Homo sapiens: one gene and its partners. The protein of the gene in region 1 purifies or fractionates together with the protein of each later gene. This does not show direct contact. Each region holds a gene or a part of one and is shown in the gene's direction. Other genes may lie near its edges.

What was found.
Region 2: the proteins of ZCCHC10 (region 1) and CIBAR1 purify together in Homo sapiens (co-immunoprecipitation; 2 studies listed by BioGRID and IntAct, with this or other methods). This does not show direct contact.
Region 3: the proteins of ZCCHC10 (region 1) and NEURL4 purify together in Homo sapiens (co-immunoprecipitation; 3 studies listed by BioGRID and IntAct, with this or other methods). This does not show direct contact.

The regions. Positions count from the first base shown.
Region 1 is NC_000005.10:132,999,466-133,002,649, reverse strand, and holds part of ZCCHC10 (zinc finger CCHC domain-containing protein 10), read left to right. Parts: intron 1-2,230; exon of another isoform or gene 2,231-2,254; intron 2,255-2,448; coding exon of another isoform or gene 2,449-2,476; coding exon 2,477-2,518; intron 2,519-3,184.
Region 2 is NC_000008.11:93,724,408-93,728,059, forward strand, and holds part of CIBAR1 (CBY1-interacting BAR domain-containing protein 1), read left to right. Parts: intron 1-102; exon of another isoform or gene 103-188; intron 189-1,986; coding exon 1,987-2,106; intron 2,107-2,723; exon of another isoform or gene 2,724-2,837; intron 2,838-3,652. UniProt on the Homo sapiens protein: Plays a critical role in regulating mitochondrial ultrastructure and function by maintaining the integrity of mitochondrial morphology, particularly the organization of cristae.
Region 3 is NC_000017.11:7,322,752-7,326,403, reverse strand, and holds part of NEURL4 (neuralized-like protein 4), read left to right. Parts: intron 1-60; coding exon 61-149; intron 150-690; coding exon 691-763; intron 764-930; coding exon 931-1,195; intron 1,196-1,423; coding exon 1,424-1,605; intron 1,606-1,923; coding exon 1,924-2,009; intron 2,010-2,133; coding exon 2,134-2,296; intron 2,297-2,391; coding exon 2,392-2,590; intron 2,591-2,680; coding exon 2,681-2,757; intron 2,758-2,840; coding exon 2,841-2,919; intron 2,920-3,280; coding exon 3,281-3,456; intron 3,457-3,537; coding exon 3,538-3,652. UniProt on the Homo sapiens protein: Promotes CCP110 ubiquitination and proteasome-dependent degradation. By counteracting accumulation of CP110, maintains normal centriolar homeostasis and preventing formation of ectopic microtubular organizing centers.

The DNA.
Region 1 (3,184 bases):
TATGTATATAATATGCCCTTTGCAAATATTAAAACTTAGAATTGCAAGTATGAGTTTTCCAGAAATTATTTTATTAGGAATGTAAGCAAAAAAATGTTTGAAGACCCCTGTCCTAAAGAATGAAATACGGGTTATGAAAATTTTCATTCTAGTTTAGGCGCACACCTATAATCCTAGCACTTTGGGAAGCTAAGGTGGGAGGATCACTTGAGGACAGGAGTTTGAGACCAGCCTGGGCAACATAGCAAGTCTCACCTCTACAAAAAATAAATACATAAATAAAATTTTATTTTGACATTTACTTTTGTTTTTCTAATTGTATCTCACAAGTATTTTGGTCTAAAAATATATATAATTACATGAATCTGGCTCTGTTAAAAAAGATTGCTGGCCAGGAACCTTGGCTCACACCTGCAATCCCAGCATTTTGGGAGGCTGAGGCGGGTGGATCACAAGATCAGGAGATCGAGACCATCCTGGCTAACATGGTGAAACCCTGTCTCTACTAAAAATACAAAAAAATTAGCCAGACATAGTGGCGGGCACCTGTAGTCCCAGCTACTCGGGAGGCTGAGGCAGGAAATGGCATGAACCCGGGAGGTGGAGCTTGCAGTGAGCCGAGATCCAGCACTGCACTCCTGCCTGGGCGACAGAGGGAGACTCCATCTCAAAAAAAAAAAAAAAAAAAAAAAAAAAGATTGCTGAATTTTGATTCAGTTATAATTTAATAAGTATACTTCACCCTCTTATTTTATGCCCAAAATGACAATTCAGTAAGTAATTCCATTGTGTAAAAAACTTTACATAAATACATGTTTATGTTTGGAGACTCAGGAAACAATGATGGAAGCATTATCTAGGAAATATAGAGAAGGCCAGGATATAAAAACATTGGCCATGTGTGGTGGCTCACACTTGTAATCCCAACACTTTGGGAAGCTGAGGTGAGCAGATTGCTTGAGCTTAGGAGTTCAGGACCAGGCTGGGCAACATGGTCAAACCCCGTCTCTACAAAAAATACAAAAGTTAGGCATGGTGGTGCGTGTTGTAGTCCCAGCTACTCCAGAGGTTGAGGTGGGAGGATTGCTTGAGGCTGGGAGGCAGAGGTTGCGGTAAGCCAAGATCATGCCACTGCACTCCAGCCTGGGTAACAGTGAGACCCTATCTCAAAAAGAAAAAAAAAAGTTAAATTTACAGGACAGTGGTGATAGAATTAATTGTTTTTTTCTTGTTGTTGTTGTTGTTGTTGTTTTTATTTTGAGACAGAGTCTTGCTCTGTCGCCCAAACTGGAGTGCAATGGTGCGATCTCAGCTCACTGCAACCTCTGCCTCCCAGGTTCAAGAGATTCTCCTGCCTCAGTCTCCTGGGTAGCTGGGAGTACAGGCATGCACCACCAAGCCTGGCTAATTTTTGTGTTTTTTTTAGTAGAGACAGGGTTTCACCATGTTGGCCAGGCTGGTCTCGAACTCCTGACCTCAAATGATCTGCCTGCCTCGGCCTCCCAAACTGCTGGGATTACAGGTGTGAGCCACCGCACCTGGCCTAATTGTGTAATTTAAAAACCTGATTTAGTATGCATGTTGTTTGACAGAATAATAGCAGCAAGCTATTTGTCCCTTTCATTCAAATTTACCAGACTTTATAACTAATGTGAGTGAGCATAGTTTTGAAGTATTACATTTCTGGTCTTTAAAGAGTAAATAACTCGGCCAGGCAGGGTGGCTCACACCTGTAATCCCCAGGACTTTGGGAGGCCAAGGTGGGCGGATCATGAGGTCAGGAGTTTGAGACCAGCCTGGCCAGTATGATAAAACCCTGTCTCTACTAAAAATGTAAAAATTAGCCGGGCTTGGTGACACACACCTGTAGTCCCAGCTACTCAGGAGGCTGAGGCAGAAGAATTCCTTGAACCCAGGAGGCGGAGGTTGCAGTGAGCCAAGATCGCGCCACTGCACCAGCCTGGACAGCAGAACAAGACTTTGTCTCAAAAAAAAAAAAAAAAAAGTAAATAACGGGACATGCAGAAAAAGAAATAGTTATTTTAAATTAAAGGGCTGCTTTTGAAAAATTATGAAATGGCTATTTGTATGATTCTGAGAACTCAAACTACAAATTAGGGCTATTGTGCTATTAGCTTTGTTCTGTTGTTCAGGAGGTAGTGATACAGCTATATCAGCCTAAGTTCCAGACTAAAAAAATTTAATCATCTTAACTACTAACCTACCTGACTTTTATACACGTGCTAAGATGCATTGTCTTGCTTAAATGCTGGTTAAGTTGACTGCATGTACCGTATACAGCCTACAATGGCAGACTTTCCACTTGCTTATAATAAGAAATACTGTACTCTGTATGTGATAAAAACACAGAATCTTTCTCCAGAGTAAAATGATTTGGGGGATAGTAGAAGGGCTTGTCTGAGCTGTGTATAATCACTCTATTAACAGGAGCTTTTTTCCCCCTCGTGTTTATCAGCATTGGAGAAACCAATGTAGAAAGAAAGGCCAAGAAAAAAAGGTATGTGTGGTTTTAGCAGTGTTTTATAGATAACATGTAATACTAATTGGCGGGATGGGAAAGGTGATTTTAAAACAATAGCTATGCCAGATGCAGTGGCTCATGCCTATAATCCCAGCACTTTGGGAGGCCAAGGTGGGTGGATCACCTGAGGTCAGGAGTTGGAGACCAGCCTGTCCAACATGGTGAAACCGTGTCTCTACTAAAAATAGAAAAATTAGCTGGGTGTGGTGGCACATGCCTGTAATCCCAGCTACTTGAGAGGCTGAGGCAGGAGAATTGCTTGAACCTGGGAGGCAGAGGTTGCCATGAGCCAAGATCATGCCATTACACTCCAGCCTGGGCAACAGAGCGAAACTCTGTCTCAAAAAAAAATAGCTATAAGATTTGGATCTGAAGCCTCTTACTGCAATTTATAATTAAATAATCATCCTATTTTCTGATAAGTTCCTTTTTTTAACCTGTCTGGAAATGCATTGCTTCCATTTCTCCTTTTACTCCAACTTTCTAGAGTCCTTGTACGTGGAAACAATAAATAATTGTCTTCTCTTGGCTTAGAATAGGAAGTGTTAATAGACTGGTAAGAAATTGTTGGCCAGCCATATCTGGTCTGAAGTAGTTAAAATAAAGATGATGAAACAGTCACCAGCTAAGCTACGTGAGGTT
Region 2 (3,652 bases), on another chromosome or scaffold:
CTTGACCTCTGAGCTTAGGTGATCCTCCCACCTCAGCCTCCCAAGTAGCTGGAATTATAGGCACGTCCCACTATGCCTGGCTAATTTTCATATTTTTTGTAGAGATGGAGTTTCGCCATGTTGCCCAGGCTGGTCTTGAACTCCTGGGGCTCAAGCGATCCGCCTGCGTTGGCCTCCCAAAGTGTCAGGTGAGAAATTTAGGGAGAATGCCCAGGCTTATAGTTTGGTCTTCTAGGTAAAAGATAATGTCTTTCATTGTAATAGCTAATCTAGAGCTACACGGTTCAGTAAAGTAGCCATTAGGCATATATAACTATTTAAAGTTCAATTTAAAAATTCAGCTCCTCGGCCACGTGAACCACATTTCAAGTGCTTAGTAGCCACACATGGCCAGTGGCTACGTTTCTGTACAGTACAGAACAGCAAGCATTTCCATCATCTCAGAAAGTTCTTCTGGACAGTGCTGGTCTAGAGCAGGAGATAGTTGGGAGCATGAATACAGCTATCACAGGGTATGCTTGTCAGGGGATTAGTTGAAGGGTAGTCATTAACAGTGTAGATAAGATCTTTCAGAGAAACTTTTTTTTTGAGACAGGGTCTCACTCTATTGCCCAGGATGGAGTGCAGTGGCGTGTTGTGATCTTGGCTCACTGCAACCTCTGCCTCCCAGGCTCAAGTGATTCTCCTGCGTCAGCCTCCCAAGTAGCTGGGACTACAAGCATGCACCACCACCCCTGGCTGATTGTTTTTTTGTTTGGAGAGATAGGGTTTCGCCATGTTGCCCAGGCTGATCTCAAACTCCTAGGCTCAAGTGATCCTCCTGCCTTGGCCTCCCAAAGTGCTAGGATTATAGGCATGAGCCACTGTGTGCAGCAGCATTGTTTTTATATATAATAAGTGGCCTAAAGGAAACCCTTTAAAAATATTTTAGGTATAAGTAGTAGAAAAGGAGATGTAAAGAAATAGAGAAGCCAGGACAATGAAAGAGTTTAGTAGCATTTAAGTTTCAGGAAGGGGGTCAGTGAGGATGAAGAGGAAAAAAAGACCTTGGTGATGTGAGGAAGAGCAATTTTAGTGGGAGGTGAAAAGCTCAATTGTAGTTTGTTGATAAATAAATGGAAAAGAAATTTGTTTAAAAAGAAAATGGAGATGAAGTCGAATATTCAAGAAAGTTTTTTAAGTAGTTATACCTTGAGATAACTAAAAAAAAAAAGACTGATCTTGAGCTTGTTTTTTAGGAGAGGGAACCTGTGACAACAAAAGCTTTTGTTGGTTGGGTTTGAAGTTTTGGTTAAAGGAAAAATGCACATTGGAACTAAATCAGAATGGTATTTTTAAAGAGAAAGAAGGAAAAGGAGGGGCGAAAAGCTTGAGGGAAAGTTCAAGAGATTCATATCTGATAACCTTACCTATTAGTCTATATAGAGAAATGGTGGGGGTAGGGTAGAAAAGATGGAGCTAGAAAGGCTTAAAAGTGGTAAACATTTGGAAATAGTGCCTTAAGGAAAGAGAACTGACAAGTCATGGCATTCCAGATCCTAGTAAGGTTGGAATCCATAAATTATAGTGGTTCCAATTTACTCTTATGTAATTTTCATAGCAGTACTGCAGAGTTAAATTGGTAAGAGTTGAGAATTTGCAGAACAGAAAGATTCAAAGGTATGAGTCGCAGCCTCCCTACTAGCTTGCATGCTCTTTGAGGGTCTCAACTTCTGCAGTTCTCCTGGCAAAAGCATTTAAATGATTGTTTCATGACTAATTACTGTTTAATATCTGTCATCATCTTACATAGTTCAAATAGAATTTTTAGCTTTCATCTTTCTAGCTTATTTTTGTTGTCTTTTCTTTTACATTTACAATAATTGGAATTTTGTCCATTTGGGGGGAGTTGTTTTTTTAAAAAAAAATCTTAACTAAGGAACTTAATTTGACTGTCTTGATTTTGTTTAGCATCTACTTTATAATGCTATTTTATCATTACAATAGGTTTTCCGAAATTCTCTGTATGCACCAGATTATTCATCTCGTTTAGATATTGTAAGAGCAAATTCAAAGTCACCTCTTCAGAGATCACTGTCAGCTAAGTGTGTATCTGGAACAGGACAGGTGAGCAAGAAACCGTACTCTAAAGGAATTTGAGCTGCTGCCTTTGGAATTGTTGAGTTCTAAAAATGTTTCCCCTCAGTCATATCACCTCGGTAACTTATCCTCCCCTGGACCTATTTCTTCTCTTCTATAAAATGACAGAAGATTGCATTAAGTGCAGCTCTATTATTTCTTAATTATCTTTTATACTGTAATTACATATTACTCTCTAAAGCATAACACTTGAGAGCAGAAGTGGAAAAGACAAAAGAATGCTAATGCAGATGTGTTATCTGCTATAATATGAAGAGCAGATTCTGAAGTCCAACTTAGGTTTAAATCTCACTATCAAAACTTAGTGGATCTCATTAAATTATAAAGTTAAATACCAAATTATACTAAAAAAGGGCTTTTACTGAACACAGAAATCATTTCATTTTTTTTCTATATCCAGAAAGCTTGAGTTTCCCAGTATCTAGAGCAGGGGCTGACAAACTTTTTCTTTAAGATGTGGAGACTAACATTCTTAGGCTTTGTGGGCCATATGGTTTCTACCCCAACAACTATAAATAACAACTGTTAAGTAACACATAAAGCAGTATGACTGTGTTCTAATAAAATTCTATTTACAAAAGCAGGAGGCTGGCTGGGCCGCAACTTGCCAAACCCTGATCTAGAGAGCTATGCCCTTTTCATATCTAGCCTTCAGAATATAAAATTCAACAAACTTATTTTCAAGATACAACTTTTAGGTAAATTTGATACCATACTTTCTATTTTCATTTGATTCTCCTGTAAGCATTTATTTTGTTTTATATGTATGTATCTCTCCCCCAACCCAATTGTATTTTTTTTATTCCGGCATTAAGTGCCTTGAACATAAATTCCATAAATTTACTTTTATAGTCCATATAAAGTTTTGACTACAACTAATAATGTCACCTTAGCTAACACTTGTATAGCACTTCAGAATGCATTATCCCAGGGTTTCTCAACCTCAGCACTGCTGACTTTGGGACAAATAATTGGGCCCACCAGGGAGGAAGAAGGGGACGGAATACTGTCCTGTATATTGTGACGACATCAAGCAGATATTAGCATCCCCCGCCTCTACCTACAACATGCCAGTAGCACACATAAACACACAGCCCCAATACTGACAAACAACAGTGTCTCTAGACATTCCCAAATGTCCCCTGGGTTAGATATAATCACCCTCAAGAGAAGTTTTAAGCAATATGCCCCACGTGGCGGCAGTCAGGCAACTTAAAACTGGTGAATTCAGATTCTCAACTCATTCCATTTAAATCACACTACTTTTACATCAGTATTTCTGTCCCACTGCCTAGCTGAAATATCCTTCTATTTTTGCCATCCATTTTATGATTCTCAAATGCTGTTTCTGTGACCCAAAATTTATTTTTAATATTCATAATATAGAGTCTATACTTTTAATGTTTTTGAAGTATTGATGGCTATCCAACTAAAATCAAATGGCTAATTACACATTTTTATTCAAAAAAATGTGATGAATGAAAAAACTGGCTTCTGAGCTTAAAATTCATAG
Region 3 (3,652 bases), on another chromosome or scaffold:
CTGGTGTTGCTGAGGGGAAGGAAGCCCCGTACCCGAACCCAAGTGTCCACTATCACCCAGGCACCATCATGATGAGCGGCTGTGGAATCCTGACCAATGGCAAGGGCACCCGCCGGGAGTACTGCGAATTCAGTCTGGATGAGTTGCAGGTGAGGGTGGGGCACAGATCCCTGGGCCGCTTTCAGCAGAGCCACAGGTACTCTGTGTCCCTGCCAGGGCACCAAGCAGGGTCTCCTATGTGACCTAGAGGCAGTCCCTGTATCTTCCACCTAAAGGTTCCTTCCTAGAAGCCTGAGTTGCCCAAGAGTTCAGCACTCAGATTTTGGAGTCAGATGGTTGAATTCCTCTTACTGTTTTCCCATTTGTAGTAGCGAACCGGGGCAAGAAGCTTATCCTCTTTGATTGCTCCCCCACCTCCTGCAATCTCTAAAATGAGCCTACGAGTAGTACTTATTCCATAGGCTGAGACTTGTAGAAGCTAATGTCTGTGAGGTGGTTTAACTCAGTGCCTGACTCACGTGGAGCATTGACGAAATGTGGAAATTGTCATGTCTGGAAAACAAGGACCCAGGACCTGTCCTCCAGGGTGGTCTGAGACTCTCACGAATACCTTCTGGAGTTGTTCCTGTGTGGAGTGGGGTGCTGAGCAGGCCTCAGGACTCCTCTAAACTGTTTGTCTTCTTTGATTAGGAGGGTGACCACATTGGCCTCACAAGGAAGTCCAACTCTGCCCTACACTTCTTCATTAATGGTATCGATCAGGGTAAGGGCCGCCCAGAGAGAGCCTCTGGGCCGGGGCTTTCGGTGGGGCTGGGACTGGGGGCTGTACCTCATCCTCCTGCTTCTCTTTGGTGCTTGGCCTCCCTGTGTTTGACTTTCTCCCCTCATTCTCCCTGTCCACTCCCACACCCCCGTACCTTCCTGCCACAGGAGTGGCAACCCCCTTGACGCCCCCAGTGGTGTATGGTGTGGTGGACTTGTACGGGATGGCAGTGAAGGTGACCATCGTCCACAATAACAACCACAGTGACCGTCTCCGCCGAAACAACGCCATCCTGCGGGCGCTGTCCCCCGAGGGTGCTCTCCGCCGTGCTGCCCCTGCCGCCCAGGCAGAACCTGAGCGCCTGCTCTTCCACCCCAACTGTGGGCAGAAGGCAGCCATCACCCACGAGGGACGCACTGCCCTGAGGCCCCAGTATGGCCCATGGGGTGGGGAGAAGCCTGAAGAAGGGATTCTAATGGGGGGGGGGGGGCGGGGCAAGGAAGTGGAAGGCAGAGGGAGCCTGGCGGGGGCAGCTTCCTGGAGGTTGAGCTTTAGTTCTTTGGCTTGGGGCAGTGAGTGTTGGCAGGCATTGCTGGGCTAAGCCTTGGCACATTGAGAGCGTGTGTTGGGGATCTGACTCTCCACTTGCTGTGCCCTCAGTGCCACCGATGACTTCAATCACGGCGTGGTGCTGAGCAGCAGAGCCCTGCGGGATGGAGAGGTGTTCCAGGTGCGCATCGACAAGATGGTGGACAAATGGGCTGGCTCCATTGAAATTGGTGTCACCACCCACAACCCTGCCTACCTCCAGTTGCCCTCCACCATGACCAACTTGCGCTCTGGTGAGCTCCCAGGAAGGGCAGGGACAGGATAGGGTTTTGGGGGGAAGCTATCCCCAAAGCCCTGGCACTTGTTCTGCAGCTCCTTTTTCACTTGTCACTCTTGTGACCACTCATTCAGTGGCTAGAGAGTGTCCCGTGGGCAGGGCTGTGGCTGTCTTGGAAGCTGCAGAGTTTTCTTGTCCTGCTCAGGGAAGAAATCTAGTCATCAAAGAAAAGGCAAGGTGGACTGTGGGCTCGGGAGTCCTGTGGGCGCTGCTGTGGCAAGGAGAGGAGCCCTGCATTTCCCCTCATGTCCCCTCCTGCTCCTTGTCCTCCCAGGGACCTGGATGATGACTGGGAATGGGGTGATGCACAATGGGACGACCATCCTGGATGAATACGGGCACAATCTGGACCGCCTCAAGGTGGGAAAGTGGGTGCGCCGCCTGGCGGCCGCAGCGGGCATCACAAACACCGCGGGGCTGATGCAGGACCAGCCCCGGCAGGAACTCTGCCTGACTCCTCACTCCAGCACCCCCTTCTTCCAAGGCAGGGGACACGGTGGGCGTGGTACGGCGGGAGGACGGGACTCTCCACTTCTTTGTCAATGGGATGACTCAGGGCCCTGCTGCCTGGAACGTGCCCCCGGGCGTCTATGCTGTCGTCGATCTCTATGGCCAGGCGGCCCAGGCCACCATTGTGGACGACGTGGGTGAGGGCCGGGCTGGGCTGGGGCTGGGGGTTAGGGTGGCCTTGGGAGGTCTGAGAGACACCTAGAGACCTGATGGGTGATGTCCACTTTTACAGAGGTGGCTCCAGTTCCTGAACCACTCCCTGAGGGGAACAACCAGGTGTCTCCAAGCTCTCCGTCCTCAGGGGCCGGGGGCTCTGACCTGCGCTTCCATCAGCTGCACGGCAGTAACGCAGTCATCACTAACGGGGGCCGCACCGCCCTCCGCCACAACTGTCGCAGCGAGTTTAATGACGCCATCGTCATCTCCAACCGGTCAGTCTCTCAACTTTCATGTCCCCACCTTCCTCCTGCCCAGCCTCAGCCATGCAAGTAGAGCCTCTCTGATCGCCAGTCTCCTGGCAGGGCCCTGCGGGATGGAGAGCTGTTTGAAATTGTCATTCAGAAGATGGTGGACCGCTGGTCAGGCTCCATTGAGGCTGGTGAGGGCCGTCTGTGTGTGTTGGGGGCTGTTGGATGTCTGTGCCTTGGGGATCGGCCTTGACTTACCCCTGCCTCCTCCCAGGAGTGACTGCTATTCGGCCTGAAGACCTGGAATTCCCCAACACCATGACAGACATTGACTATGACACATGGATGCTGAGGTTGGGCTTCCTGCTTTGGGGACCAGCTTGGGGCTGAGTGGAGCTGGCTGGGATCAGGGAAGCAAGGTTTGGGCCTATGGTGGCTGTGGGTAGTGACAGACCTAGGGGATCTACCTGTCCCCTCCCCTTGAATTCTGGGAAGTCCTGCCCAGGCCCACAGGGGCTCAGTCCTCCTTCATCTTAGGCAGTTCTTGCTTTTTCCTAAGGGGATCCCAGGGACAGAGGAGATAGGATTGGGCCTTACACCCAGATCAAGACACCAGCCCAAGACATTGGAGGGTTCTGACAGACAGGGAGTGGGCAGGGGCCAATGTGAAGTTGAAGTTGGCAGGCTGACTCACCCCTTCTGCCATCCCCCCAGTGGTACAGCCATCATGCAAGACGGTAACACGATGCGCAACAATTATGGGTGTGACCTGGATGCGCTGGGCACAGGTGCACGCATTGGCATGATGCGAACTGCCAAGGGCGACCTGCACTACTTCATCAACGGCCAGGACCAAGGCGCTGCCTGCTCGGGCCTGCCTCCGGGTAAAGGTGACTATGTGGCTTTCAGCCTGCCACCCTCAGCCCAGACCACCTGGCTGTCAGGCTTCTGACCTTCCCTCTCCTCCCCAGAGGTGTATGCGGTAGTCGATCTCTATGGCCAGTGTGTCCAAGTGTCCATCACCAATGCCACCGGCCCCATGGACAACAGCCTGGCGACCAGCAACACTGCCACCGAGAAGTCCTT